Homo sapiens: one gene and its partners. The protein of the gene in region 3 interacts with the protein of the main gene of each other region in a pairwise test. Each region holds a gene or a part of one and is shown on either strand. Other genes may lie near its edges.

The links.
Region 1: the proteins of TERT (region 3) and DACH1 come close enough for resonance energy transfer, tested with the Homo sapiens proteins (one large-scale study listed by BioGRID).
Region 2: the proteins of TERT (region 3) and SERBP1 interact in a two-hybrid assay, tested with the Homo sapiens proteins (one study listed by BioGRID).
Region 4: the proteins of TERT (region 3) and ACAA2 interact in a two-hybrid assay, tested with the Homo sapiens proteins (one study listed by BioGRID).
Region 5: the proteins of TERT (region 3) and TIMM21 interact in a two-hybrid assay, tested with the Homo sapiens proteins (one study listed by BioGRID).
Region 6: the proteins of TERT (region 3) and STEAP4 interact in a two-hybrid assay, tested with the Homo sapiens proteins (one study listed by BioGRID).
Region 7: the proteins of TERT (region 3) and EIF2S1 interact in a two-hybrid assay, tested with the Homo sapiens proteins (one study listed by BioGRID).

Annotation. Positions count from the first base shown.
Region 1 is NC_000013.11:71,437,179-71,441,156, forward strand, and holds the end of DACH1 (dachshund homolog 1), read right to left. Parts: intron 3,515-3,978; coding exon 3,477-3,514; 3' UTR 788-3,476; downstream 1-787. UniProt on the Homo sapiens protein: Transcription factor that is involved in regulation of organogenesis. Seems to be a regulator of SIX1, SIX6 and probably SIX5.
Region 2 is NC_000001.11:67,420,250-67,424,357, reverse strand, and holds part of SERBP1 (SERPINE1 mRNA-binding protein 1), read left to right. Parts: intron 1-35; coding exon of another isoform or gene 36-80; coding exon 81-158; intron 159-4,108. UniProt on the Homo sapiens protein: Ribosome-binding protein that promotes ribosome hibernation, a process during which ribosomes are stabilized in an inactive state and preserved from proteasomal degradation.
Region 3 is NC_000005.10:1,291,865-1,296,587, forward strand, and holds the start of TERT (telomerase reverse transcriptase), read right to left. Parts: upstream 3,205-4,723; 5' UTR 3,126-3,204; coding exon 2,907-3,125; intron 2,803-2,906; coding exon 1,449-2,802; intron 1-1,448. UniProt on the Homo sapiens protein: Telomerase is a ribonucleoprotein enzyme essential for the replication of chromosome termini in most eukaryotes. Active in progenitor and cancer cells. Inactive, or very low activity, in normal somatic cells.
Region 4 is NC_000018.10:49,789,051-49,793,158, forward strand, and holds part of ACAA2 (3-ketoacyl-CoA thiolase, mitochondrial), read right to left. Parts: intron 3,278-4,108; coding exon 3,102-3,277; intron 2,550-3,101; coding exon 2,420-2,549; intron 1-2,419. UniProt on the Homo sapiens protein: In the production of energy from fats, this is one of the enzymes that catalyzes the last step of the mitochondrial beta-oxidation pathway, an aerobic process breaking down fatty acids into acetyl-CoA.
Region 5 is NC_000018.10:74,154,924-74,159,031, reverse strand, and holds part of TIMM21 (mitochondrial import inner membrane translocase subunit Tim21 precursor), read right to left. Parts: intron 3,888-4,108; coding exon 3,825-3,887; coding exon of another isoform or gene 3,808-3,824; intron 3,727-3,807; coding exon 3,629-3,726; intron 1,019-3,628; coding exon 945-1,018; intron 862-944; coding exon 756-861; intron 657-755; coding exon 552-656; 3' UTR 1-551. UniProt on the Homo sapiens protein: Participates in the translocation of transit peptide-containing proteins across the mitochondrial inner membrane.
Region 6 is NC_000007.14:88,285,998-88,290,105, forward strand, and holds part of STEAP4 (metalloreductase STEAP4), read right to left. Parts: intron 1-4,108.
Region 7 is NC_000014.9:67,373,555-67,377,662, reverse strand, and holds part of EIF2S1 (eukaryotic translation initiation factor 2 subunit 1), read right to left. Parts: intron 3,196-4,108; coding exon 3,116-3,195; intron 1,225-3,115; coding exon 1,073-1,224; intron 1-1,072. UniProt on the Homo sapiens protein: Member of the eIF2 complex that functions in the early steps of protein synthesis by forming a ternary complex with GTP and initiator tRNA. This complex binds to a 40S ribosomal subunit, followed by mRNA binding to form a 43S pre-initiation complex (43S PIC).

The DNA of each region.
Region 1 (3,978 bases), on a different chromosome or scaffold from region 3:
ACATAAACATATGATGACAGAAGACAAAAATGTGCTTGTAATGGTCACATCATAAACGTTTTAGGTTTTATTAAGGAAAAAAATCATAATTTAATATACTGTTTCAAGAATTCATTAAAATCATACCTTTAGACAGAAAAATTCATTTTCCTTTCTCTTGGGAATGTTTAGAATATTCACAGAGATAGCAACCCGATAGTTCTTCAAATGCTGCACTTTTGATTGATTAAAGTGTTTATGTATTATTAAAGGATATTGTAATTTCAAAGTTTCTAAAGGCATTTTTTTTCCAAAGATAGAGATCAAAAGCAAAACACTGAGTTAGAGTTACAAATCTCCACTCATAGATATGGGAATAATATATTTTGTTCCATCAACATGTCTACTTTGCATTATTCAGCACAAAGCTTTGTGAAATAAGAATCATGGGAATATAAGAATATAAAGAAAAAAGGTACAAATAACAGCTTCATAAACTGAGAAATGTACATAAATAAATCATGTATATGTGGGCAGTTTGCTTAGCTGGCAAGAAACAAAATATGGAAAATCTGCTTGTTAAACAATAACTACAGAGTGTGCTTTTATGATGTTTTTCACCACAGTAATTCATATTAGAGATAGAAGCAGTTGCATGTTAAATAAAATCATTGAGCATTGTTCCCCTTGCATTGCAAAGAGCTGACTTGTGTTGTTTTTAGATGCCTCCCATTAGAAAGTAAATATTCCTTCAATGCTATGCATTTCACAAAATTTAATAAAGATGAACTGTAAATAAAGTCACAGGGAGATTTCAGACAGTTTTATTAGGAGATTGTTGAAAAGGAAAAGAAAATTAAATACAATAACAGTAAACGTGGTTCTCACATTGAAACCAGGCTCAAATAACTAGGCTACCATAGAAAAATTTCCAATTCTTGCATTATGATGTAAAAACAGATTTTTGTACAGATTTTGTACAACAAAATTCGTAATAACCTTTTATCATTTTTAGAAAACTTTAAATATATAGATAAAAATAGACAATTTTCATAGGTCCTACATGAAGATGAGTATGTTCTGTTCCAAGGGCTTGCATAGAGCGCAAATGTGGTTATAATATAGAACAACTAGACATTAATATTTTTAGGATTACAAAAGCATGGAAACCATAAAATGGGCACATTTTACTTGTTTATGCCAAAACACAAATTTCCAAACCAACCTGTATAACTAAAACAGGGAAAAAATTAAGTTACAGACTTACAATAACATTTCATGAATTGTAATATTTACAACATGTTAGTAAGAGTCTCTCTTAACATACAGCTGATAGCTTTTTTCTTTAATCCTTGCTAAAATTTCCTTTTATTTCAAATCAAACACTAAAGCATTCTCAAAGGTCTTCAAATATGTATTTTAAAACTATTTAATCCACATAACAAACAGGTGACTCTATGCCAGGAGCAGAGCAATGGCTGATTCTACTACATATGTAAGTTGTAGGCTTTTTTAAAAATCTTTCAAAAAATGTATGATGCAAAAAGCTTGACACAAGTCCATTCAATTTTAAGTGTTGTAATCCTTTAAAGACTGCATATAGGGAAACAAACACATAGAACTAGGAAAAGAATCCCTTGTGCTCAAACAACAAAAGGTGGTTATGGAAGAACTATGCTTAGAAAACCAAGTTTCTACAAATCATTTACTAGCAATACTTTAAATAAAAATAATGCTCCCTTTGTAAGCAAGCTAAAATAGGAACTGTACATATAACCTTTTTATGGTATTAAAAAGATGAACTTAGCTGGCTAATAGTGAGCTACACAAAAGAATTATGTTCCAGTATTGCAAGGAAGACCTAAAAGGTATAGAAGCGTAATGCCAGAGTATCTATAATGTTAATTTTTTCTTAATCAAGTAATTAATACCCAATCAGAACTATATTTAAACATTTTAAGCTAGTTTTCTTAGACATTGAAGATTTTGCTGTTTTGTGGTAATAAATAATGTTACGATCATACAATTTTAAGATGACAGAAAAATCATAAAATGTATAGTGACCGTACTGATTCATATCAGTCTTTAAAGGTGTAATTCCAGATATGCAAAAAACAAAGAGAAGGTAACTTTAGCATGTAATAAGCACTGTTTGCCGCTTTACTTCCAGTTATCTGCACGAAAGTGAAAACACATACTGTAACTTTCAAAAAGACAGTGAAAATAACACATAGCCACCCTTCCCTCTGACAAGGGTGGGAAGCACAGCACATTTTAACTTTATCACTCAGCGCTACATGGTATTGGACTGGTACATCAAGGTTTGTTAGGTTTTGTTTTCAGCAACATTAACATAATATGACGTTAACATATAAAAATATTTCTGGTGTTTTGATTTGCTGTTCAGCCACAATCCATTCCCAATAGTGCAGCTTGGGGCACTAGCTAGGGTTCAATATACAAATAAAAGTGGCTGACACAGAGTTCTGATGTCACCAGATGCTTAAGATCTCATTCATTAATACTGTGACTCCAGACAAATATTTACATGCCTGCATGCGTTAAAACCAGAAAGACATCTTTCTGACCAACAGGGTGACAAAACATATTTTCTAAAATTTTCATTTTCCTAAACTCTAGTATACTACTGCATACATAATACCTTCCTTGTGTGTTTTATGTTTATATACTGTACATATGACCAACAGTTTGAATAAGAAGCAACATTATTATCTTTAATTCTACATACCACTACCAGTTTGGAATGAAAACATGTTACACTTATATATTTTTTTTTATTTTTAAGAAAAAAAAACCTTCAGTGAAAGCTTTTGGCTTATATTCAATGCTTCTTTTCAGATATGCAAAATGTTATTTCATTGGGTTGTTGTCAACATCCATTTGTTGGTCTTTTGGAAAGTATGTGAAAAAAAATTCTTCAGGAGAAAACCCACAATTAGAGAGTTTGAAATTGAATGTAACAGAAAATCACTCTTGCATTTTTTTTTTTCAAGAATCCTCTATGCCCCCTACAAGTTCATTCGTTCATTCCAAGTGTTCTTGCTGGTTTCTGGAGGACATAATTCTGTAAGTCTGGGTAACCACTGCTACAAGAGTCTCTTGATGTGCTCAGATACAGAATTTTCAGAAGAGGAAAATGGTTCATTCCATTAGAAAAAAACAAAGCTAGGTCTTATTCAGACCTGCCTTTAACTCTGTATACAATTGTCCAGCAGCAAGTTGCAGTAATTAACTGTAAGAACTTTGATACTTGTACATTTACAAACATTCTCAGGTCTCTGGTATGAACCACAGGTGAAAATCAATGGAGAAAACTTTTTTTTTTTTTGTAGAATACTTAAACTTTTAAAGAACATTAATACACAAAATTCAGGAAGTTCCCTTAAAAGGACTTTATTTTTTTCTGAACTTTCCCATGACGAATGTCTGACTGCAAAGTTCTTTTCTATAACATGGATTTCTTCAACAGGAAAGATTCAGTACATGACAGTAGTTTTCAAATACAGTCTTCCATCTAGAAATGAACAGTGAAAAATTAATTAATGGCATGGTATTTGGGGTACAAATGTGCATGTAAAAATGATGTAACTTGATATAAAATTTGTAGTTTTTATTAGATCTTTACTTGGTTAAGAAGTAACATTTTTCATATCTTCTCAAAGTTAAGTTAATTTCATAATTACACTGAGTTTATGTGACTGAAAAGAATACAGCATTTCTACTTCTCATAAATATATATTTGCTATTTTGATATCAGTTCCAGAGCACTCAGAAAATAGCTAAGAGTATGTGTGTGTATTTTACTGATATGCAAAGTTAGTTGATTTCTGTTGAATAACAATTACTTCCTTCAAGCTTGCAGAACCAAATTTTCTCTGAATGCACTCAGGTGTATCTCCATCAGGAAAGACTGAACTCCCATCTTACTCTTTAGCAGTGTTGTTAAATATACCATGTAATGTAACTATTGTGCACATT
Region 2 (4,108 bases), on a different chromosome or scaffold from region 3:
GACCTAGATGCCTTTCTTTTTCTTTCTTTCCTTAGAGAGTCCCCCAAATACATTCAGAAACAAATATCTTATAATTACAGTGACTTGGATCAATCAAATGTGACTGAGGAAACACCTGAAGGTGAAGAACATCATCCAGTGGCAGACACTGAAAATAAGTAAGTGGTATTGCGTGTAATAGTAATGACCCAGAATTGAAAGCACTGGAGTTTTACCAATAAGATAACCCATAGATTTAATGCTGTTACTTGATGGCTTTTTGTTTTTGACAAGGGAGACTTACTGTACCCTCATCCCTCAAAGAGTATTTGAAAGAATGCTTTTTTTTTCTTTTTTTAATAGAGACAGGGTCTCACTATATTGCCTAGGCAGGTCTCCAATTCCTGGGCTCAAGCGTTCCTCCTGCCTTGGCCTCCCAAAGTGCTGGGATTACAGGCATGAGCCACTGCACCCAGCCCTTAAAAGAGTGGTTTATGTGTATATATTTGACTCTAACGCTTTGAAAAATAGAATATTTTAATGTGGTTATTTCTGTTTGATTAGTCATTTTACCATTGTCATACAACTGTACAAATTTTACTTTGAGATAGTTAAAACTAGAAAATGTGGCCATTTTAACATTAGTTCTATCTTGAAGTTATTTCCAATGTAGAATTTGGAACATAGCATTACTGGCCTGTTTTTAAATGTATGAAGAGAGCAAAGATCAGAGTATGTTATTCACTATCTTTTTTTTTTTTTTTCTTTTTTTGAGACAAGATTTCATTCTGTTGCCGAGGCTGGAGTGCAGTGGAGTGATCTTGGCTCACTGCACCCTCCGCCTCCTGGGCTCAAATGATCCTTCCACGTCAGCCTCCTAAGTAGCTGGGACTATAGGTGCCTGCCACCAGGCCCGGCTAATTTTTGTATTTTTAGTAGAGACAGGGTTTCACCATTTTGCCCAGGCTGGTCTTCAACTCCTGAGCTCAGGCAAGCCACCCACCTTGGCCTCCCAAAGTGCTGGGATTACAGGCGTGAGCCACCTTGCCCAGCCCTTCACTAACTTTTTTTTTTGTGTGTGTGAGATGGAGTTCACTCTTGTTGCTTAGGCTGGAGTGTAGTGGCACTGTCGGCTCACTGCAACCTCCGCCTCCCGGGTTCACGCGATTCTCCTGCCTCAGCCTCTGGAGTAGCTGGGATTACAGGCACCCGCCACCATGCCTGGCTAATTTTTTATATTTTTTAGACCAGCTGGCCAGGCTGGTCTCGAACTCCTGACCTCGGTGATCCACCCTCCTTGGCCTCCCAAAGTGCTGGGATTACAGGTGTGAGCCACCACACCCAGCCCTTCACTAGCTTTTAAAATTACATGGTGTTTTGTTTTGTTTTGTTTTGTTTTGTTTTGTTTTGTTTTGTTTGGAGACATTCTCGCTCTGTTGCCCAGGCTGAAGTAACAGTGGCGCTATCTTGGCTCACTGCAACCTCCGCCCCCTGGGTTCAAACGATTCTCCTGCCTCACCCTCCCGAGTAACTGGGATTACAGGCATGCATCACCACGCCCAGCTAATTTTTTGTATTTTTAGTAGAGACAGGATTTCACCATGTTGGCCAGGCTGGTCTCGAACTCCTGACCTCAGGTGATGCATCCGCCTTGGCCTTCCAAAGTGCTGGGATTACGGGCATGAGCCACCACGCCTGACCTAAAATCATGTTTACTTTGCCAGTTATTTGTTACAGTATTGTGGTTTAAAGTCTTGGATTACAGGTTATTTAGGACAGTGATTCCTAACCAGAAGCATATTCAAGTTAGTTGGGGGGTGGGAGGGGCAGATGTTTTCTAAACTTTTTCTTTTTTCTTTTTTTTTTTTGAGATGGAGTTTTGCTCTTGTTGCCTGTGCTGGAGTGCAATGGCGTGATCTCGGCTCACTGCAACCTCTGCCTCCAGGGTTCAAGCAATTCTCCTGCCTCAGCTCCTGAGTAGCTGGGATTACAGGCATGTGCCACCACGCCCGGCTAATTTTGTATTTTTAGTAGAGATGGGTTTCTCCATGTTGGTCAGGCTGATCTCGAACTCTGACCTCAGGTGATCTGCCCTCCTTGGCCTCCCAAAGTGCTGGGATTACAGGCGTGAGCTGCCGCACCTTAAACTTTTTCTTTTCTTCAGAAAGAATTTGCTCTTATGGTGAGCACTGTTAATGATGGGAATATCATATTCCGTGGATTTGTTGGGATAAGGAAAAATGATATACTATTGGAGGGAGTAGATAAAAATACATGGTATTGGGTGATGTTTTGAACTTGGTAATAAAAATTTATGCAAAACTATAATGGAATCATAATTTTGCATGATAAACAATGAAGTTGTGATTGGTGCCTTAACAAATGAACCCTATGCAACGTTAAGTTTCTCATAGTGGTCAACACAACTTTTTTTTGTTTCTTTGAGACACAGTCTCCTGTCTCCCATGCTAGAGTGCAGTGGCGCGATTTTGGCCATTCTGAAGTTCAAGCGATTCTCCTGCCTCAGCCTCCCGAGTACTGGGACTACAGGCATGCTCCACCATGCCTGGCTAATTTTTGTATTTTCAGTAGAGACATGGTTACACCATGTTGGCCAGGCTGGTCTTGAACTCCTGGCCTCAAGTGATCCTCCCGCCTTGGCCTCCCAAAATGCTGGGATTACAGGTGTGAGCCACCGTGTCCAACCACAACTGTTTAATAGAGCCCATGTTCAATCACTCAGTGATATGCAAAGATTATAACTGTTTACCAAAAGGTACTAATGTATTGATAGGCTATTGGTAGCAAATCCTTAGCTCAGTGCCCAGGAGCGAAACTGAGGGTGTTTGGTTTAAAGAAAATAATTATCCATCACATTAGAACTGTCTGTAATCTTATTCCAGACTAGGGGAGAATCTGGGCATAGCATATGGAAGTATAAATTTAAGAAACACAACATTGGCTGACTTTGATGAACTAACTTATATATAGCTTCCAGAGCTTCTGTTTGGTTTTTATTTAATCCTTGCAGTAATTCCTGAAAGGTAGGTGTCATGCCTCCATGATATGATAAAAGGTATGCTAAGTTCTATTCCTGGCTGTGTCATAACATATGGGTAAGCAGGACTTTTTTTATATTCTTAGATTTCTCATCTGTAAAATGACTAGGTGGACTCAGTACCCAAGATCCCAAGATCCTGTCAATTCAATATAAACTTGCTCTAGGAAGTTTTTTGTTTTTTTTTTGCAGCATAGATGTAACTGGAGGAACTTTTAAGATAGCATTTGTCAAACAGTAAAGGGCAGCATCCAGGGAGATATTTGAGCTCTAAGGCTAACTGAATCACCTGCTATCTTTGGAAAGAAGCAGGGCTCCCCAAATAGCAAATGACTTGTTTGGTGACAATTGCAGATTGAGATTATACTAAAATAATGGATCCTTAGGCCTGTGCTTTGTTTCTGTAAAAAGAGGAAAGGATCATATTCTATAGTTAAGACCTGAGAATTATATTTGGAAATAAATGGTTTAGTATTAAATAATGAAACCAGTGTGTGTTTGTGGATAGTTCTATTAGTAGTGAATCCATGGCCTCCTTTCCATATACAGGTTGGTTTGAAAATTGGAGTATAAGGATTTTAGGATTTGTAGAAACACGGCTATTGTTTTGATTTGCTCTAAGTGCTAGTTGCTGAAACAAAGCATAGAGGAACAGTTCTTTTATATTCCAAAATTTGAACCCTGGTTGCTGACAGACATCCTAGAGGATTACCTTCTTGTATGTTATTAAGAGTTACATATTGTGGGAATTATGGAAATTAAAAATGTGGTTTAGGAGAAGATAGGCTGAGGATTTTACATAAGAGGGTAGTTTTTAAACAAGGTAGTGTTTTTAAGAAATGTGTATTTTAGTATTCGTAAAGCCAGTTCTAGATTGTATTACTGATAAATGATCATTTAAGAGTTCATAAGTATGAATTCCATATTCCTTACTTGTCTCTAATTAGCAAACACTGAATTCCTGGTCTCTACCAAGTTGCTTAGTTACATAGGAAACTAGGGTACCCTCATCCTTGAATAATCTTTCTCTAAAAGATTACAAGGTTAATTTTCTCAATTAAAATCATAAAT
Region 3 (4,723 bases):
AAACTCTCCTCAACGAAGGAAGCTGGAGCACAAAAAGCAAAACTGGGTTGCATGACGCTTATCTGACTCGGCGTGGTCCACCTGAGCCGCAGCAGGTGTGAGGCAGCTGCCGTTCGATGGGTAGGGACTTCCAGTCACGCAAGACGCAGCATTTCAAGCAACCTGCTGTAAACACCGCCGAGTTAGCAATTCTGCACTGTACACAGAAAACGGTGTTAGGAGTGCCAATCTCATGTTATATGACTTTTGCCACCATAAAAAGAAAAAAAGAAAAAAAAGAGCCCCAAGAAGGTCACCCTCCTTGTCTGCATGGCCGGAAGTCTTACATGTCTTGGGAGTTTGTGGGGAGGGGGTGAAATCGGGACTTCTTCTAGCTGCCACGGTAGGGCCTGGGAGCACTGGGAGCCAAAAGGGGGCTGGAGCGGAGGTTCCTCAACATCAAATCCAGAAAAACAGGGTGGGGACACGGCAGGGCCCAGCAGCACCATCCCCTGAACACCCACAAACACTGTCCCTTCCTCAGCAGGTGGAGCCATCTGCTGTCCTCTGCTCCCATGTGGCCCTCTTCATACCTAAAGATGGGACCAGGATCTGTGCTGGAGAACAGTCTTATCTCCCTCCCTCTACCCTGTCCTGGCACAATCAACGAACACTTTTTTTTTTTAAAGACAGAGTTTCACTCTTGTCGCCCAGGCTGGAGTACAATGGCACAATCTCAGCTCACTGCAGCCTCCGCCTCCTGGGTTCAAGTGATTCTCCTGCCTCAGCCTCCCAAGTAGCTGGGATTACAGGCACACACCACCATGCCCAGCTAATTTTTGTATTTTTAGTACAGATAGGGTTTCACCATGTTGGTCAGGCTGGTCTCAAACTCCTGACCTCAGGTGATCCACCTGCCTCAGCTTCCCAAAGTGCTGGGATTACCGGCGTGAGCCACCGCACCTGGCCGTCAACACACAATTAAATCTTAAACACAAACCTGCATATTGGCTGACCACGTGCACCTGCAAAACCCTTACCTCCCACCCCCAGGAAGAGGGGGTTCTCGTCCCCACCTCTCATTCCCACCCTTGAAATTGCGAAGAGGATTATAGGTAACCTGCAGGCACCCTCGCCAGAGCGTCTGTGCTTCCAGACACTTCTCCCCATTGCCGGCAACCCGGCTCCACTGCCGCGCCCAGCCTCCTCTGTTCACTGCTCTGGCCTCGGCGCCTGGAAACCGCGTGTCCATCAAAACGTGAAGGTGAACCTCGTAAGTTTATGCAAACTGGACAGGAGGGAGAGCAGAGGCAGAGATCACCGTGTCCACTCGACGTCCTGAGCGAAAAGCCACGTGTGCCCACGTGACGATGGAGACAGGAGGACCAGGGCTCTGCCTGCCCCCTTTTCTGAGCCCCTACTGCATTCAGCTCTGGGGCCTGGGCCCTCGACGGCCACCACCTCCTCACCTGGGCTCCTGCGCAGCCAAGCGCAGTCCCGCACGCTCATCTTCCACGTCAGCTCCTGCAGCGAGAGCTTGGCATGCTTCCCCAGGGAGATGAACTTCTTGGTGTTCCTGAGGAAGCGGCGTTCGTTGTGCCTGGAGCCCCAGAGGCCTGGGGGCACCAGCCGGCGCAGGCAGGCCCGCACGAAGCCGTACACCTGCCAGGGGCTGCTGTGCTGGCGGAGCAGCTGCACCAGGCGACGGGGGTCTGTGTCCTCCTCCTCGGGGGCCGCCACAGAGCCCTGGGGCTTCTCCCGGGCACAGACACCGGCTGCTGGGGTGACCGCAGCTCGCAGCGGGCAGTGCGTCTTGAGGAGCACCCCGTAGGGGCACTGCGCGTGGTTCCCAAGCAGCTCCAGAAACAGGGGCCGCATTTGCCAGTAGCGCTGGGGCAGGCGGGGCAACCTGCGGGGAGTCCCTGGCATCCAGGGCCTGGAACCCAGAAAGATGGTCTCCACGAGCCTCCGAGCGCCAGTCAGGCTGGGCCTCAGAGAGCTGAGTAGGAAGGAGGGCCGCAGCTGCTCCTTGTCGCCTGAGGAGTAGAGGAAGTGCTTGGTCTCGGCGTACACCGGGGGACAAGGCGTGTCCCAGGGACGTGGTGGCCGCGATGTGGATGGGGGGCCCGCGTGGTGCTGGCGGCCCACGGATGGGTGGGAGTGGCGCGTGCCAGAGAGCGCACCCTCCAAAGAGGTGGCTTCTTCGGCGGGTCTGGCAGGTGACACCACACAGAAACCACGGTCACTCGGTCCACGCGTCCTGCCCGGGTGGGCCCAGGACCCCTGCCCAACGGGCGTCCGCTCCGGCTCAGGGGCAGCGCCACGCCTGGGCCTCTTGGGCAACGGCAGACTTCGGCTGGCACTGCCCCCGCGCCTCCTCGCACCCGGGGCTGGCAGGCCCAGGGGGACCCCGGCCTCCCTGACGCTATGGTTCCAGGCCCGTTCGCATCCCAGACGCCTTCGGGGTCCACTAGCGTGTGGCGGGGGCCGGGCCTGAGTGGCAGCGCCGAGCTGGTACAGCGGCGGCCCGCACACCTGGTAGGCGCAGCTGGGAGCCACCAGCACAAAGAGCGCGCAGCGTGCCAGCAGGTGAACCAGCACGTCGTCGCCCACGCGGCGCAGCAGCAGCCCCCACGCCCCGCTCCCCCGCAGTGCGTCGGTCACCGTGTTGGGCAGGTAGCTGCGCACGCTGGTGGTGAAGGCCTCGGGGGGGCCCCCGCGGGCCCCGTCCAGCAGCGCGAAGCCGAAGGCCAGCACGTTCTTCGCGCCGCGCTCGCACAGCCTCTGCAGCACTCGGGCCACCAGCTCCTTCAGGCAGGACACCTGCGGGGGAAGCGCCCTGAGTCGCCTGCGCTGCTCTCCGCATGTCGCTGGTTCCCCCCGGCCGCCCTCAACCCCAGCCGGACGCCGACCCCGGGGAGGCCCACCTGGCGGAAGGAGGGGGCGGCGGGGGGCGGCCGTGCGTCCCAGGGCACGCACACCAGGCACTGGGCCACCAGCGCGCGGAAAGCCGCCGGGTCCCCGCGCTGCACCAGCCGCCAGCCCTGGGGCCCCAGGCGCCGCACGAACGTGGCCAGCGGCAGCACCTCGCGGTAGTGGCTGCGCAGCAGGGAGCGCACGGCTCGGCAGCGGGGAGCGCGCGGCATCGCGGGGGTGGCCGGGGCCAGGGCTTCCCACGTGCGCAGCAGGACGCAGCGCTGCCTGAAACTCGCGCCGCGAGGAGAGGGCGGGGCCGCGGAAAGGAAGGGGAGGGGCTGGGAGGGCCCGGAGGGGGCTGGGCCGGGGACCCGGGAGGGGTCGGGACGGGGCGGGGTCCGCGCGGAGGAGGCGGAGCTGGAAGGTGAAGGGGCAGGACGGGTGCCCGGGTCCCCAGTCCCTCCGCCACGTGGGAAGCGCGGTCCTGGGCGTCTGTGCCCGCGAATCCACTGGGAGCCCGGCCTGGCCCCGACAGCGCAGCTGCTCCGGGCGGACCCGGGGGTCTGGGCCGCGCTTCCCCGCCCGCGCGCCGCTCGCGCTCCCAGGGTGCAGGGACGCCAGCGAGGGCCCCAGCGGAGAGAGGTCGAATCGGCCTAGGCTGTGGGGTAACCCGAGGGAGGGGCCATGATGTGGAGGCCCTGGGAACAGGTGCGTGCGGCGACCCTTTGGCCGCTGGCCTGATCCGGAGACCCAGGGCTGCCTCCAGGTCCGGACGCGGGGCGTCGGGCTCCGGGCACCACGAATGCCGGACGTGAAGGGGAGGACGGAGGCGCGTAGACGCGGCTGGGGACGAACCCGAGGACGCATTGCTCCCTGGACGGGCACGCGGGACCTCCCGGAGTGCCTCCCTGCAACACTTCCCCGCGACTTGGGCTCCTTGACACAGGCCCGTCATTTCTCTTTGCAGGTTCTCAGGCGGCGAGGGGTCCCCACCATGAGCAAACCACCCCAAATCTGTTAATCACCCACCGGGGCGGTCCCGTCGAGAAAGGGTGGGAAATGGAGCCAGGCGCTCCTGCTGGCCGCGCACCGGGCGCCTCACACCAGCCACAACGGCCTTGACCCTGGGCCCCGGCACTCTGTCTGGCAGATGAGGCCAACATCTGGTCACATCCCGCCCGCACAGGGTGGAGGGCAACCTCGGGGTCCAGGCACCTGGCTCCAAGCCTCGGACTGCAGAGCTAGGAGGCCCGACTTCCAGCCCAGCAGTAGAAGCCACACGGCCACTGGTCCCCTCCAGACCTGGGGCCCCGGCACAACCGCAGGACAGCTGAGGACTTCCCAGGAATCCAGACTCCGGGTTGCTCAAGTTTGGATCTAAGGGGCGAGAAACTTCTGGGTCTCCCGAGGCCTTGCAGGGATGCTGTAGCTGAGGTCGGCAAACACTGAAATGCTAACAAACGCAACCTTAAATGTAACCTTTCCTACTTTCAGAAACTGCCGGAGGAAATTGCTTTATTTATGGAGCTAGCATTTGAACAGGCCTCGCACCCTCCCTGGGCTGTCACGCTCGCTGGAGGTTAGCCTCGTCTTGTAAATACTTAGGATTACAGGTCGCTCTTCTAGAAATCCCCTTAGTGATCCCTAAGCCTTTTTAAAGGGCTGTGTTTGTGAATTGTCTCTGCCACTAGGGCAAAGGGGCGGTTTGGAAAATTTGTTCCAACAAAAGTTAAGTTGTAGCTTACACTGGTTCTCTGCAGAGAAGCCAACATAGAAAACACAATTTTAAAAGAGGGAAGAGAAGAAATGGAAGCAGAAGATTATGCTG
Region 4 (4,108 bases), on a different chromosome or scaffold from region 3:
GCTGAAGAGGCTCAAAGTTCCACCCACCAACCTCTACCATTGCCACCCCTGAGGAGTTCCAGGGAGTGCTGTCTTTCTATAGCTGTGTATTTCCTCAGAACCAGTACTATTCTTTTCAAGTCATGGCTTTCCCCGTTTTTTTTTGGTCTGCAGCTATTCTGCAGGGCTAAGGATTGCTAGTCATTAGGTAATCATGGAACTGAGAACCACTATTCTTGTAAGTTAGATTAACAAACCAGTTCCCACTAGATACTTAATAACTTATTCTCCCCACTTATTCATCTGGGATGCTTCAACGAGTTACTTTGTTTAATCCCATCACTATATACAAGTGACAGCCAAACTTCTAGATGAAGGGGGCAGCTGATACTGTGGGACATCTGGAATGTACAGCTCTGTTCAAGCCCCGAGGAAAAATGACAATCCTACCACAGGAGCATTCTTTGTACTTTAGGGCAAATATTCAGGCCCAGGAACAGAAGGAAGGAAAACAACGCTTTCTTGGTTCACTGGCTATGCTAATCTACCAGAACCTATTAAATAAAGTTAAACTGAAAAAGGAGTATAAAATAGCCAACCCATGTCACATACATTTGTTTGATCATCAAAAGCATCTAGGTGTATGCAGGAAAAAAACCAACTCTGCTCTTGGGCTGGGCATGGTGGCTCACGCCTGTAATCCTAGCACTTTGGGAGGCTGAGGTGGGCGGATCACCTGAGGTCAGTAGTTTGAGATCAGCCTGGCCAACGTGGAAAAACCCTGTCTCTGCTAAAAATACAAAAATTAGCCAGGCGTGGGGGCGGGCACCTGTAATCCCAGCTACTGGGAAGAATGAGGTTGCAGTGAGCTGAGATCACGCCACTGCACTCCAGCCTGGGTGACAAAGCGAGACTCTGTGTCAAAAACAAAAAACAAAACCAACTCTGCTCTTGGGCTCCACTCTGGACTTACTGAAACAAAATCTAAGGGTGTGGGGGTTATGAGTGGATTCTGACAATCATCTGAGGTTGGGAACCACTACCCTAGATATCAAAATAATAAATGCCATAACAACATACGGATGTTTAATTTTTCCACCACCTTCCATTTCTAAGACAAAAGTTATCTTTTGCCAATAGTGGATAGCCAAAAGCTAATAAGCTTAAGATTGACTTTTCATATGTGTCAAAATATCTTGCAGTTCTTGCTGACATAAATTTGAGACACATAGTGAAAGATGACAAAATATGAACATGCCAGCTTTTTTTCTTAGGAACTCTATACAGAGATATGTCTTCTCTGAGGGACATGGCAGCAAATATGGTTGAGTATTAATCCCAAGTCAGTGTAAGTGGTATTGTTTGAGTAGAACCTGTAGGCTTACACTGAAGGATCTCTGAGATGGCAGGTCAGTAACAGGTTATCCTCCTCCTCCTCTCTTGGAACCCACCTCAGAAAACAATTTAGTTATTCAAAAAAGGGCTAAACAATCTGAAATCTATACCCTAGGGCAGGCTTTTCCTTACAGTGGGAGGTTATATGTAGGTGGGATATATCAAAGTTACTGAGCACCAAATTTTATTTTTCTAAGTAAGGCACCTAATTGGTTCCCTGTTCCCCCAGAGAATGACAGGAACTATTAAAATTCAGCATCGTGTGTGGTTCCTAGGAGTGCATCCAGCAAAAAGCTCTTTGTTCTACTTCTAAATCAAATATTTTAAGCCAAGACTATACATGTTTATGGACTTCCAAATTTTTTCCATCTAGCATTTTACCAATCTAATTATAAGTCTTTATTTTGCTAATACTCACCTGAGCAAGAGGAATATTAATTTGACTTCCTGAGACTATGCGTTTAACTCACAGTGAAGAGAGCACTTGATTTCAGAGAGACTTGGATTCACACCCTGGCTGTCACTTACTGATTTGGAACCTTGTAAGACAACCTCCCTAAGCCTCAATTTTCTCATTCACAAAGAAGTCTCCCTTACTGGAGACGTGGGAAGACTGAATGTGTGTAAAACAACCAGCAAGGAGCTGCGATACCACCTTCTCCATACAGCCTTCTCTGTTTCACCCCAGGATTTCTCCCATCTCATAATTTCTTTTATCTTGTCAGGATCACGTAATTCTTCTGTTATTTTCTGTGTTGATTTCTAAACTCTCAAAGGAACAATAAGATATAATTACTGTGTGTTGATTTTTTAAATCTCAAATGGACACTAAGATATGATTACTTCCTCCATGGAGTTTACACGGTCTTGGTTTTTCTATTGTGTCTAGGACAGTTCTTCATAAAGATTTTTTATTTAAACTGATTACCAATCTTCTTTTCTCTACAGGTGACCTTGGTTTGGCCACTTTTTCAGGACTCTGAATGCCAAAGAAGACTTACCTCCAGAAATATTATAGAACCAGTTTGTTTTACTATAAACTTACCAATACCCATGATAGAGGGATCACATCCAGATACAAAGTAGCCCACAATTCTTGCCAGTGGTGTGAAGTTATGTTTCTTAACAGCATCTTCACTAGCTATGATAACAGCTCCAGCACCATCAGCTACACCCTTGAAAATAAAAATACTAGATTAACTAAAGGCTAAAATAATCCAGTTAATCAAAGTTTGAACTAATGGACTAGTAGTATTAGGAATATGGCAGTACATAGGAAGCCAGTGCACAGTGTGAGATACAATTAGAAAAGTGGTACTGTGGTGGATGAAGGAGATTTTTTAAGGCACAGAATACAACTTTACTAAAGAACAAGGAAAAGGGTGTCAAGGAAAAACTTTTATCTAGATGTGAGTAGATGTAAGAAGAAATACGATAAACTGTATGCATGAGAAAAAAAAAAGTTTGAAAACCAAAATAAGCCAGATAGATTTGTTTCTGAAATTTCTTAGTTCTGAAAAAATTAAGAAATCAGAAGAGTATTATATAAATAAATATGAAAAGATTTTGTGTGGGTCTATGAAAACCTAAATTAATTGAATATGAACACTATTAGTTTAAGCTAAACAACTAAAGACTGGCATAAAAAGTATTTACAAGATACTTCATGATTACTTTTGTTGAACACACCAGGAAGAATTCAAGCTAATCTGTGTGGTGATACCAACCGATGCATTCCCTGCAGTAACAGTTCCATCTTTCTTGAATACTGGAGGAAGTTTCTGTAACTGTTCCAGGGTGGTTTGGGGCCGAGCATGCTCGTCTACCTGCATTGTCTGTTTTCCTTTCTTTGTCTTCACTTCAATTGGTGCCATTTCATCATTAAAGTAGCCAGCATCATTAGCTGAAAAATAGTAGAGAGACTATCATAAGAATAAAAGAGAGAAACATGAAAATAAATCAAACATATTATTCAATTTAATTTCTGATCTACCTTTTCCTCACAGTCTACTTTAATATTGAGTCTTTATTAATTTTTGAGATGGAGTCTCACATTGTCGCCTGGGCTGGAGTGCAACGGCACAGTCTCGGCTCACTGCAACCTCTGCCTCCCGGGTTCAAGTGATTCTCCTGCCTCAGCCTCCCCAGTAGCTGGGATTATAGGTGCCCACCACCATGCCCGGCTAATTTTTTTTATATTTTTAGTAGAGATGGGGTTTCTCCATGTTGGCCATGCTAGCCTCGAACTCACCACCTCGTGATCCACCCTCCTTGACCTCCCAAAGTGCTGGGATTACAGATATGAGCCACCACGCTCAGCCTGAGTCTTTACTATTTACTTACACAACTTACCTTCCGTATTGGAGGATTTACGATACCATCATGTGTTTATGTAGTTGCATTTTGCATCTTTTAAAAATTATAGAGTCTTTACTATTTACTTACACAACTTACCTTCCGTATTGGAGGATTTACGATACTGTCATGTGTTTATGTAGATGCATTTTGCATCTTTTAAAAATTATATTTTTAAAAATTATATTTTTTTAACCACAATTTTTTTTCACCAGGTACTGCTAAGACTGTTAGCAGCATCTGTCTGTTTGCTATAGATGTAATGGCAATAAATGGACTTAATACCCCTTTTAAACTTCTTTTGGTGAGATAAGCAATTAAAAAGTTACCAAGTTGTCTATGCCACAAAGTAATCTAACTGAAACTTAATAGTGATAGG
Region 5 (4,108 bases), on a different chromosome or scaffold from region 3:
TTTTCCCGCTATGTACTAGGCCCTTAATTCATGAAGCGCGAAATATGAGACAGATTCCTAAAACTCACACAATTTTGAAGAATGTATTTACCATCTGGTTCCCTATGGCCCTCAACCATTTTCACATGCTTATCTCAAGTCAGATTCCAAAGTATGCGGAGGGCAGCTGCTAATGACATATTTGTTAGTTTTAATTTTATTCTGCAGACATTATGCAGTTCTATAATATAAAATGAATACAATACTAAAATCTATTTCCTTTATTTACATGGTGTAACATTTCCAATAACAAACATTTCTAATCATGAAAGATGGTGTTAAAGCAGAAATATTGTCATGATTGAGTCAATGGGAGAACATAAAATATGCTGTATTTCATAATTTTTCCGTAAGAAAATGTCTAGTTTGTTTAAATGCAACAAATACTGTATTAGATTCACTTTATAAGCCATACACTCCTTCTTGTCTTTCTTTTGAACACATTCTGGAAGGCAGCTGTGAAGAACGGAGTAGCGAGTCCACGCCATTCAACATCCATCAGAAACCCTATTTTAATCATCTTGGGATCGATTATCTTCAATGATAATAGTTCTTCTAGGATAAGATTCAATTTCTACAAATATATATCGAAAATCATATTCACCACTTCCTGGGTTCTGAAAAAAATGTAGTGTTTCCAGGTATTATTTTCCTTTCCAGAACTTAAATAACACCGCGCTCAGAACCTCTGACCCCACATCCCATGATTCCCACACCTCTTTCACTTGCGCATACACCGTTCCTTGCTTCCCTGGCTCAGAGCCCTCAATGTAGAATTTCACACACGTGTGTTTCAGCCCATCTTTTACATATTCAGTGAACCTGTCGAGAAAACGAAAGATCAGTCTAAGTTCCTTTCATTTAAAAATCTCCCCAGAGCCTCCTCTGAATTCAAGCCACAGTACCTGACATGCTGCCGGCGACCCCGCCTTGTCACCTCCCCATAGCCTTTAACAGACTCACCAAAGACACCGATCACCTGCAGAACAAGGACAGTGCTTTATTTTGTGTTATTTTTTTAAGCTTCTAAAGAAATAATTTTTAACAAACCAGATGATTTTAGGAAAAAAAAATCAGTAAGCTTAGGACCTTTTCAAAAATGACCACTCCTGGCTCACGCCTATAATCCCAGCAATCTGGGAGGCCAAGATGGGTGGATCACAAGGTCAGGAGTTCAAGACTAGCCTGGCCAACTAGGTGAAACCCCGTCTCTACTAAAAAATATAAAAATCAGCTGGGCATGGTGATGCGCATCTGTAGTCCCAGCTACTCAGGAAGCTGAGGCAGGAGAATCGCTTGAACCCAGTAGGCAGAGGCTGCAGTGAGCCAAGATCGTGCCACTGAACTCCAGCCTGGGTGACAGAGCGAGACTCCGTCTCAAAACAAACAAACAAACAAACAAATAAAAAAATGACCACTCCAATAAGAAAACTGAAAAAAGGGTTATTATACAAAAATCATCCCATAAATAATTTAAACAAATATTTCATGCACAAAGATTAAAATAGGTAGCTTTATGGTGTGACTTGTAGTTTCAAAGCAATGTAGGTTGACATGACGCAGTTCCTGCTCCTCTTACAGAAAACAAACATAACAACACAGAGTTCAGATGTTTCTCTACTAACCCCTTATGGTTTGAAGATAAAATGTATGAACATTTTTAATGAAATGTAATTAATTAATAGCATCTAATACTAAAACTATGAGATCAAAAAATTTTTAAAGTTACCAAACACAGTGAGGAAAAAGAAAACAGATAATGACATTTAAAATAAATCAGAGCTACAGGTGTGAATCTACTATTTCTAATGAGAAAATCCACATGAAGTAGAAATGTAGTTTTTATTGAATTCAAAATGCAAATACTGTGGAACCCTCTAAAAAATATAAATTTGATATTAAACTAAAAAAGTTTGACCCTCAACTCTACGAAATTTATCTTATTTTGTCTGTTTGTGGAGTATCTTCAGTATCACATTTTCCAGGATAAAAAGAAGTAATATGTAAGATGATATTGCAGAATTGTATAGCACAAACAAATAGAACAATTTACTTTAATCTATTAAACATATAAATATCAACATCCATCAAGATTTTGTTTTTCAAGCAGACACAGTACCCAGCAAAGAGAAGGGTACCCCTTAAAAAATGTTGACAAAATTGTTAAAGTTTAATTATTATTTGTAGAGTTTTTTCAGGCAGCAAATGAAGTTACGACTTCAATAATATCCCACTTTTGTATATTCTTGTGGAGTTTTTTGTTCAAAATGCTGAAAAATCTACGAAAGGCTGAGTTTGCGAATAAAACAGCAACTCTTCATCTCTTTCCAGAGATGCGTCCTAACATTTAATGAGGTTACCACCCACAGGTATTTCCGGAGTCTGTAAAGAATGTTTCTTGTCAGATAAAATTTGGATTCCCAGTAACTATTATGGGAACGAACCTTCCTTATTTCCTGGTTTTCACCTCTGAGATACTTTATCCTCCCTGCCTTTCTCCATGGTTACCACTGGCTGTCCAGAGCTCAATGAAGAGAAATCAGTGGATTTAAAAGGAAAGATGCCAGAGATCGTTAGCTTCTGAGGTTTCCACCCTGACATGATTAGAAAACTGGTAGAACATTCAGAGCCGGGGCCCCAGGGAAGATCAGCACCGGGCTCTATACTGAGCACGCTGTGGATTGAAATCTTTCTCCTCTTCAGGGGCTGCAAATGCGAGCTATGACATTACTCCTTGGTCTGTGTGAAGAACAGCCCTAATATTTATGATGATAATGGCAGACGATTACCTGCTGTTATCTTTCAGGGTGAATGAAGTTGTATTTCAATGAGTAATATTTTCAGTGCTGAAGGTCTGCAGCAGGGAGTAAGAAATCTGACACTTCCCAGGCCACACCGGCTACGTGTGACTGGAAGGTCACATCTAAAGCCTTCCTTCTTGACAGGGTCCTTCAAAGAACCAAGGCAGCTTCCCCATGTCCACTCCTCCCAGGGAAGGGTAGAGGCAGACTGTGCTTAAGAGCTTAGATTTGGAAGCAAATTTTGGATTTGTGTGGATTCGGGTTCCGGTTCCCCCACTTACTAGCTCAGTGATCCTGGTGAAGTTACTTAATCTCTTTAAGTGTCAGTCTCCCCTTCTGCAAACTGAAGACAAAGTAGTGCCGAACACAAATGGTTTTTGTGAGACTGAATAAAGATGATGCACTGAGACCCTGGGCAGAGTGCTTGCACGGACACATTTTCGGTAAGTGTCAGCAATGACATTATGACCATGAGGTCATGCATCAGGCTTTAAAAAGACTAGAAACTTACCATGAGTTCAATATTTTGGTGTATTCTAAAAATTTAGTATCTATGAACAACCAGCAAAATGACTGTCTTGTACAATTAGCATGAAAACATCTGTACACTGACTTTTGGGTTCTCTTAAAGAGCAAAGACCTAATAATGTAATGATGACTCGACCATTATGTATTATTATGTGAATTTCACTAGCGTGAGAACTGGTTCTTGAATTCTGCCCACTTCCTCCTCCCAGACATTTTCTCCCCCTCATCAGAGTTCATGTAACTCAATCTTGAGAACTAACCTCAGGATGTGATCTGCATTTTTCTAAGGCTCTCCCATATATCTTGCTAGGACTGGATGAAGAAAAAAGTTCTTTGAAAATCGTGTAAAACAAGCCACCTGAAATCACAGAAAACAAAGATGAAGCGAAGCAAGGGCAACATAAAAAGTCCAGTTTAAAAAATATTCAAGGGCTTATACTTGCTGTTTTTTGCAACCTGTAATGCTGATTCCAAAAAGCACCACTATTAAATAGGTAAAATCTCTTCCGGCTTCTTTCACTGTGAAGAGAAAACACCAATGGGTTACGGGTGCCGGCTGGGAGCAGGCAAGCTTGTCTGCTGCTTTTGCACTTCTTGCGAGAGAAAAGCAGCCTCCAGATCAAAGCAAGGGGTCTGTGTGTGTTCAGGGGCAGCTGTTTTGAAAACTCCCTGTGTGTCAGCGCCTCAGCAGAATTCTCAGAGCAGGGCTTGGGAATCTATGTTTTAATTTAGGATGAAGA
Region 6 (4,108 bases), on a different chromosome or scaffold from region 3:
AGTCCCGAAAGTTTTTTCCTTTATTTTAATGTCATAATCTCCAAGGTTATCAGAAACTTGCATTCAAGAGCACCTGTCAAAGTTTTATAGCTGATTATAAAACCATCTCCTAAAGAGGACCAAATCAAGACAACAATTGTCTGCAGATGACAGAAATGTTTTAGGGAAGCCGCAGTCAAAGAAATTGACAAGGAAATTTGTTACCTCTGTGGCACACAAAAATTCAACATAACAATTATAATTATTACTGATAACATATACTGAGGCATATTAGAATTATAGAAATCTTATACAATTTTATAACACATACTAATAACATATTTATATGAGTATAACTCAAAGAAAGTTAAACACCATTTTATATTTGACAATGTTTCCTGCATGATTTTAATACATTAAATAAGCCTAATATATCTTTTTGAACTTCAGGATATCTAATTTTTTTTTTTAAACTTATAATTTGATCTTGGAAGGTTTGTCAAATATCAAAGATTTAAAACACTGGATATCACAAAATAGAGTCCCGTGTCACCATAAGTCATTCATTTACCCAAAATGATAACTCAGGGCTGGGCATGGAGGCGCACGCCTATAGTCCCAGCTACTCTGAGGCTGAGGCATGATAATTGCTTGAACTTGGGAGGTGGAGATTGTAGTGAGCTGAGATTGCACCACTGCACTCCAGCCTGGGCAACAGAGTGAGACTCTGTCCCCTGCCCCCAGAAAACTGCTGTGAGCAATTCCTTCAGGGCCCTCCATACATATAAACACACACACACACACACACACACACACACACACACACACACACGCAAACAATGTAAGATGAACAGAAGGCCTTCAAGACACAGATTCCAGACCCAGTCTCAAACCAAGAGTAGTCCTCCAAACAAGTTCCTTAGTCTCCATCCAATTAGACAACCCCTAATGGGGCTACAGACAGACACTCTGTAATGGGGCTACAGCTACAGACACCTTGTAATGGAGCTACAGGCAGATACCTTGTGATAGGGCTACAGACAGACACCCTGGGAGGTTACTAAGAGACAGCAGCACCTCCAGAGAGGCCAATAAATCAGGAGAAGGAAGGGGCTGTTGGTAGCTGCCTGGAATACTCACCAAATCAGACACCTTGCATTGAGGCTACAGCTACAGACACCCAGTGATGAGGCTACAGTTATGAGATATCTCCCTAGCATTACTTCTCCACTGCAATTGAATCCATGCACATTGGGTCAGCAGCACCCCACTGGCAGAGAGTGCCAGAGTCAGCCCCTAGTCCAAGAGAACTAGGTGGCCACTTGGGTTGGCCTCCAGATCCATCACCAGAGGTGGGCTACAGAGCAGGTAACAACAAAGGCAATCCTGGTCGAGCCCCCAAATTTGTAACTGCCCAATGGATTCACCTTGCCTGCTGCCTAGACAGAGCCAATTTATCATGACAGGGGGATTGCAATGGAGAAGGAGTAATTCAGGCAGAGCTGGCTGTATGGGAGACACGAGTATTATTATTACACAAATCAGTTTCCCAGAGCACGAAGATCAGAGTTCTTAAAGATAATTTAAATTAAAATAGGAGCTCGAAAGTGGGAAGTGCTGATTGGTCAGGTTGGAGATAGAATTATAGAGGGGATCGCAGAAGTGGTTAAGCCAGATTACCAATCTGGGTGGTGTCAGCTGATCCATCCAGTGCAGGGTCTGCAAAATATCTCAAGCACTGATCTTAGGTTTTATAATAGTAATGCTATCCATAGGAGCAATCTGGGGAAGGTCAGACTCTTGTAGCCAGAGGCTGCATGACCCCTAAAATGTAATATCTAATCCTGTAGTTAATCTGTTAGTCCTACAAAGGCAGACTGGTCCCCAGGCAAGAAGTGGGTCTTTTTGGGAAAAGGGACATTATCAATTTTGTTTCAGAGCCAAACCATAAACTAAATTCCTTCCCAAGGTTAGTTCTGCCTGCAACCAGGAATGAACAAGGACAGCTTAAAGGTTAGAAGCCAGATGGAGTCAGTTAGTTCTGATCTCTTTCACTGTCATAATTTCTTCAGTTAGAATTTTTGCAAAGGTGGTTTCAACGTTGGGGCAACTCAAGAGTTACCTGAAAGAAAAAAATAAATTTATACCTTATACTCCACCCCAAGGTAAATTCAAAATAAATTAAAGATTTATTTTATTTATTTATTTTGTGAGACAGAGTTTCGTTCTCGTTGCCCAGGCTGGAGTGCAATGCTGTGATCTTGGCTCACTGCAACCTCCGCCTCCCAGGTTCAAGTGATTCTCCTGCCTCAGCCTCCAGAGTAGCTGGGATTATAGGCATGTGCCACCATGCCTGGCTAATTTTGTATTTTTAGTAGAGACAGGGTTTCTCCATGTTGGTCAGGCTGGTCTCGAACTCCTGATGTCAGGTGATCCGCCCACCTCAGCCTCCCAAAGTCCTGGGATTACAGGCATGAGCCACTGTGCCCAGCTAAAGATTTATTTTTAGAAAAATGAAACTAGAACAGAACTAGAAGAAACCATGGAACATTCTTTTATAATCTTAGAGGGGAAGGTCCTCTTCCTACATCATTAAACCATTAACAAATAGTTGGACAAATGTGATTGCATAAAAATAAATAACTTCTGCAATGCAAAACCGCTAAGCAATGTCATAATGAAGATAATCAACGAACTGGAAAAAATATTTTTCAACTCATATAAATCAATGAGAAAAAAACAATTGCCCATTAGAAAATTGGGCAAAGAATATGAGCTGATAGTTTATCCTAAGGAAATATATAAAAGACTTCTAAACACAGTAAAATATTCTTAATATTACCCAAAACTAAAAAAAAATGCAAGTTAAAACTAAACTGAAATACTGTTATGAACCATGTGGCTGTAGAATTTAAATAAAAAACAAACCAGTTTGTATGATCTCCTGCAATAATCTAGGTTGTTTTTTATACTTTTGAAGAATATCTTTTCTTTCAGTATTGAATTTTTCTCAAAAATGTTTCTTTTCCAATATGTAGTTTAAGCTTTCAGTTAATCTTTTATTTTTTTTGGTGCATGCATGCGCGTGTGTGTGTGTGTGTGTGTATGTGTGTGTGTTTGTGTGTGTCTATTGTTCAATGATGTATCTTCAGTGCTCAGAAAAGCACTAACTACCACAGTCTAGGAAATTTATAAATATTCGTTGAACTATATTAAAAGGGTGGGATGAAGGGGCTGGAAGTACAAAAGTTTACTCTGTGTCCCAGGCACAGTGTGAGATAAATAAAAAGGAAGATGCTGAATGATTAAAGAGTAACCAATGGAGAAGAGTAAGAAAGAAGGAAAGAAGTGGAAGAGATGTTGTAAGGACATTATTTCTTTCACCCAAATGGGTTGAAAGTAAAACTCTGTGAATTTGATGCAGAATTTTCAAACCAGACTTAATCACTACTCAATTCTCCTATGGTGGATTTCATGCAGATTGCACAGTGTATGTAGAGTTTGCACCTTTTTCCTGGGGTTTCAGAAATTTGTGCTTTCCATTTTAGCCTATCAAAAACACCTATATTCTTACCGGAGCTTATCTGAAGTTGCACGCCTCCATCAAAAGCAGAGCATTTAGGCCTTTGTAGGGAGGTAGAAGTTATGGGAGAAAGGGACAAGAAATACAGGACATTCCTGCACTCCCACAGAAACTCTGAATAATCTAATTAAGTACATCTGAATCATTTTATAAACAAACTGGCGACTGATATCCTGAATGGGTGTCATCAAAGGTCATGACCACATGTGGGGAAGTACCTGTAGATGATCAGGGAACTTTGTATAAAAGTGCAGCTGTGCCTTTGAAAATTTCTTACTAGCATCTGCACATGCAGACTAGTTTAGCAATTTACCTTCTATTGGTTGATTGCCAATCAGTTAACACCTAGTTTTATAAATCAAACCTTCAAACTGCTGAACAATGCCTTCATTATTCTACTGTAGAACTGGTTTGTGTCACAAAAGAATGTGTGACTGCCTATCTCCTCACTTAAAAAAATTATTTTATCCTAATATTTTTATTCTCTCTTTCATACTGGATGAACATTTGCAAGCAAAATGTAGATTTGATGCAGTTGCCAGTATC
Region 7 (4,108 bases), on a different chromosome or scaffold from region 3:
TAATAGAGATCTCTGAGCAGCAGCTGGGCATAGGTGGCAAGACTAGTTTGAGAGCAATTAGGACACAAATTCCAGTGACAGCAGCATAGGAAGAAATGACAGGTGGGACAGAGATATGTAAGTTTGTTGAGACAGTGGAAAAGTAGTTCTTGTGCAATGGTTTCTATTTTCTTTATAAAATAAAATAGGTAGTGAGCATACCAGCCAAGAGGCAGGGAGCAGGGATAGAGTGGTTTTCTGAGGAAGAACGTGGAAAAGCTCTAAAATAGCCACTACTGAAGAACTGACCAGGAGCAGAGAGAATGTGGAACAGCTGAGGCTGGAGACCATGAATATGCAGTGGACCAACCTGCAAGACTGATTTTTCCTAGTAGCACCCAGCAGTCTACAAGTACAGAGAAGGCAGGAACATTGATCCAAGGCTGGATGGATGGAAGGAAAAACAAGGCAAAAGCTCACAATAATGGCAACAAAGTCGTTAAAATGATGTATCATGGTGTGCCTATGTTGGATAAGAGAGAAAAGGCAGGAAATGGCGAAAAGACAGGGAGAAAAAAGGTTTGGAATCAGATCCTAACATACAGAATTAAGATGACAAATAATAGGACCAACTGGGAGCTAGATGAATAGGAGGCAGGGGCAAAAGAACAGAAAGTGTGAATTAAAGATTTTAGTGGCAGAGCAAATCCCGGTGATAGTAAGGCCCAGGCTAAGGCTACATGGAAGACTGGCTAAAGTGGTGTGGGCTGAAAGTCAAAGGAGAGTCAAAAGAGGTAGAGAAAACAAGAGGTTATAGTTTTTGGTGAGACATGCTCTTTAGTCCCATAGCCACTTAGGACAATAACTAGGAAAGGAAAATGTGTGAGATAAACCATATGGTTTATGAATCTACATAACTATGATACATAAAACTACACAGACTTGACCATATAGGATTGGCCCATTTACTGGCCAATACAAAATATTTTAATCTAAATTTGGCAAGTATTTTATACATGGATGCTATGCTGTTAAATATCAGGCCAAGAGTTGTGATATCAAGGTAGAAGGAGAGTCAAGAAGGTATTCTTACGAGACTGCATGCTTAAATGCATCATAGGCACCATATCCAGGTCTCTTGTACTTGTCATCAAAGACCCAGGCAGTCCTCTGGAATAGGCTTTCCAGCTGCTCATCCTTGGTGTATTCTAACACCTCAGCAACATGACGAAGAATGCTATAAACCTAGAAATAAAATGAAAAGCTCAACAATTCAAAGATAAGAGATTTATAAAAAATGTTTTTACATTTTAGTAAATAACATAATTTGGCTACAATAATTCCTTAACAATAAAAGATCTCCATAGGGAAATACTCACTTTAAGTGGGTATAAAAAGTAGAGATAGTATACAATTTAGGGTCCTAAGACCTGGATCAAGTCTTGACAGTAACACAGTATCTCTGAACTTGTTTCCTCCTCTGGAAAAAGAAGAAACTAGCATCTCTCCTTACTACAGAGTGCTCGCATAGATCAAATATATAGAAACCACACACTATAAATGGAAAACGGCTATACAAATACAAGTTGTTATTATTACTCCCTGAGGAGAGAATCACGATAAAAAAAATTTTTTTTCTGTCATCTTACCCACCTGCCAAACTTTTTCTTACCTCCTAAAATTAACAGGGTGTAGACAAAAAGTATTAAGGTCTTCATCATAGTTACACATAAAAATTGAGTGAGAAAAGGTACTGACACTGAATAACTCTTCCATTTTAACATCTCAATAAGATCTATTAACACACTCATTTTAACAATATCCTAAGGAGACAAAAAAATATGAAATTTTCCCAGAAAAGTGCTTCTCAAAAGTTAGTAGGACCTGAGAGTCTGTATTTCTAAAAAAACAGGTGATGTCAATGCTGCTAGTTTAGAGACTACATTCTAAGTGGTAAGGTCCTAGAGTTTATTAAGAAGATATTTTACTGACAGTGTTTTCAAATGTGTAAACCACACTGCATAACTGTAAATACATCAGTAAAACAAAGGAAATGATTTGGGTAACTGATGGCTTTTAGACCTTTATTTTCTCTCTTACTGGGATTAAGCAAGATTTTTTAAAATCTCTTCATTGAAACTTTTTTTTTTTTTTGATATTTTATCTTGAGGACAGAAACACTCATGGCAGAAAAGAACAGACACCAGAGAAGGGCAAAGAAAACAGAAGCAATACAAACAGTACCACTAAGAACTGAGGATAGGCTGGGCACACTGGCTTACGCCTGTAATCTCAAACATTCCGGGAGGCAGAGGCGAGAGGATCGCTTGAGCCCAGGAGGAGGTGGTTGCAGTAAGTTGAGATTGCGCCACTACACTCCAGTCTGGGAAAGACTTTGTGACACACACACACACACACACACACACACACACACACACACACACACACACAGAACTGAGGATGTAGAGGATGAAGGATAACTTAAACAGGACCTGAGAAAAGAGAAATACTGACAGAAGAAATTAAATGGCTATCTTTGCTTTGCTGCTGCTTACTGTGGATGACAAGCAGGAAGTAATAGCAAAAATAAGAATGCAAAAAGAAATAATCCTAACACGCTAGTGGAGGGGGAAAAAAACCAAAACTAGTAACAGGCCTCTGCCTTGCTTTCCTGGATTCACAGACATTTTATAAACCCCTGTTCATTCTTAACATATAACAGCTGGTTGTCTCCGTTACCCTCATCCCAGAACAGGGTTGAAAATCAAGAACTGTATTTTGGCCAAGTGCATTGGCTCACTTCTGTAATCCCAGCACTTTGGAGGGCTGAGGCTCAAGGATCACTTGAAGCTCAGGGTCTGAGACCAACCTGGACAAAATAGAAAGACCTCATTTCTATTTAAACAAACAAAAAAACCCCGTATTTTATGAGGCATTCCAACTGTAAACAAGTTAAAGCAGTTGAAGTCACCCACAGTTAATTTAACCTAAAACGGCTTCAAAACACTTCTAGTACTAATTTGAGAATATTAGATCATAAGCAATACTTTAAGGTAGTAGCAGTATGAAATTAAGATTTCAAATTATTTATTAAACACACAGATAGTGGACTAATTTGACTCAAAGATCAACTTACAGTTTTGGATTTTGTGAATTTGTCTTCACATTTGATTGCTTCCTCTGGAGAAACTCTTCTTTTTGACAAATCAATATATCCTGTACAAAAAAATTGTGAAAAAATCATCTCTGTCCAGATGCCACTGTACTATTGTAACCAGCTTTGAAGACCAAATTAAGTGTTTGATTGGCATACTTATAATTATTTCCTACTAAAATCCTATCAACAAAATACTGCATAAGTATTACAAGGCTGAGTATCCCTCATCAGAAATGCTTGGGACCAAAAGTGTTTTGGATTTCAGATTTTGGAATATTTGCAATGTATTTACTAGTTAGAGCATCCCGAATCTGAAAATCCAAAATCTGAAATGCTCCAATGAACATTTCCTTTGAGTGTCATGTTGGTGCTCAAAAGTTTCAGATTTTGGAGCATTTTGGATTTGGGGATAAGGGATACTCAATCTGTACAAGATGAGAGATTCTGAATTGTTTTCAGAAATAAATTTTTATTATCAGGTAATTATATATATTCCATTACCTTACTGGAGAGAACTAATAATTTTCAATTATCCAAATGAAAGGTAGTCAAATGCCTATCTTTCCCCTATTTCTTCCTTTTCCTTCTCCAGAATAGGAAAATTCACTAAGATGTTCATTTAGTTTAAGGAAAGAGGCTATCGTCACAGAAGACACACACACACACACACACACACACACACACTGAACAAATTAAAACTATCTAATCTACTGTATGACTACCATATACAAGTAACTATGTTAGGTGCTTAAACATCTTCTTGAACCCTCACAACAATCCTGCATGGTAGATTATCACTCTCTTTCCCACAGCGCCCCCCAGTCTTTTTAACCTGAAGAAACTAAAACCCATGAAAGGTTAAGTAACTTGTCAACGTCAAATAGCCAAAAATGGCTGAAACCTACAAACCTGTGCCTGGCAATGACTTCCAGTACAATGCTGAGTAACAGTGGTGAGAGTGAATGTCTTGTT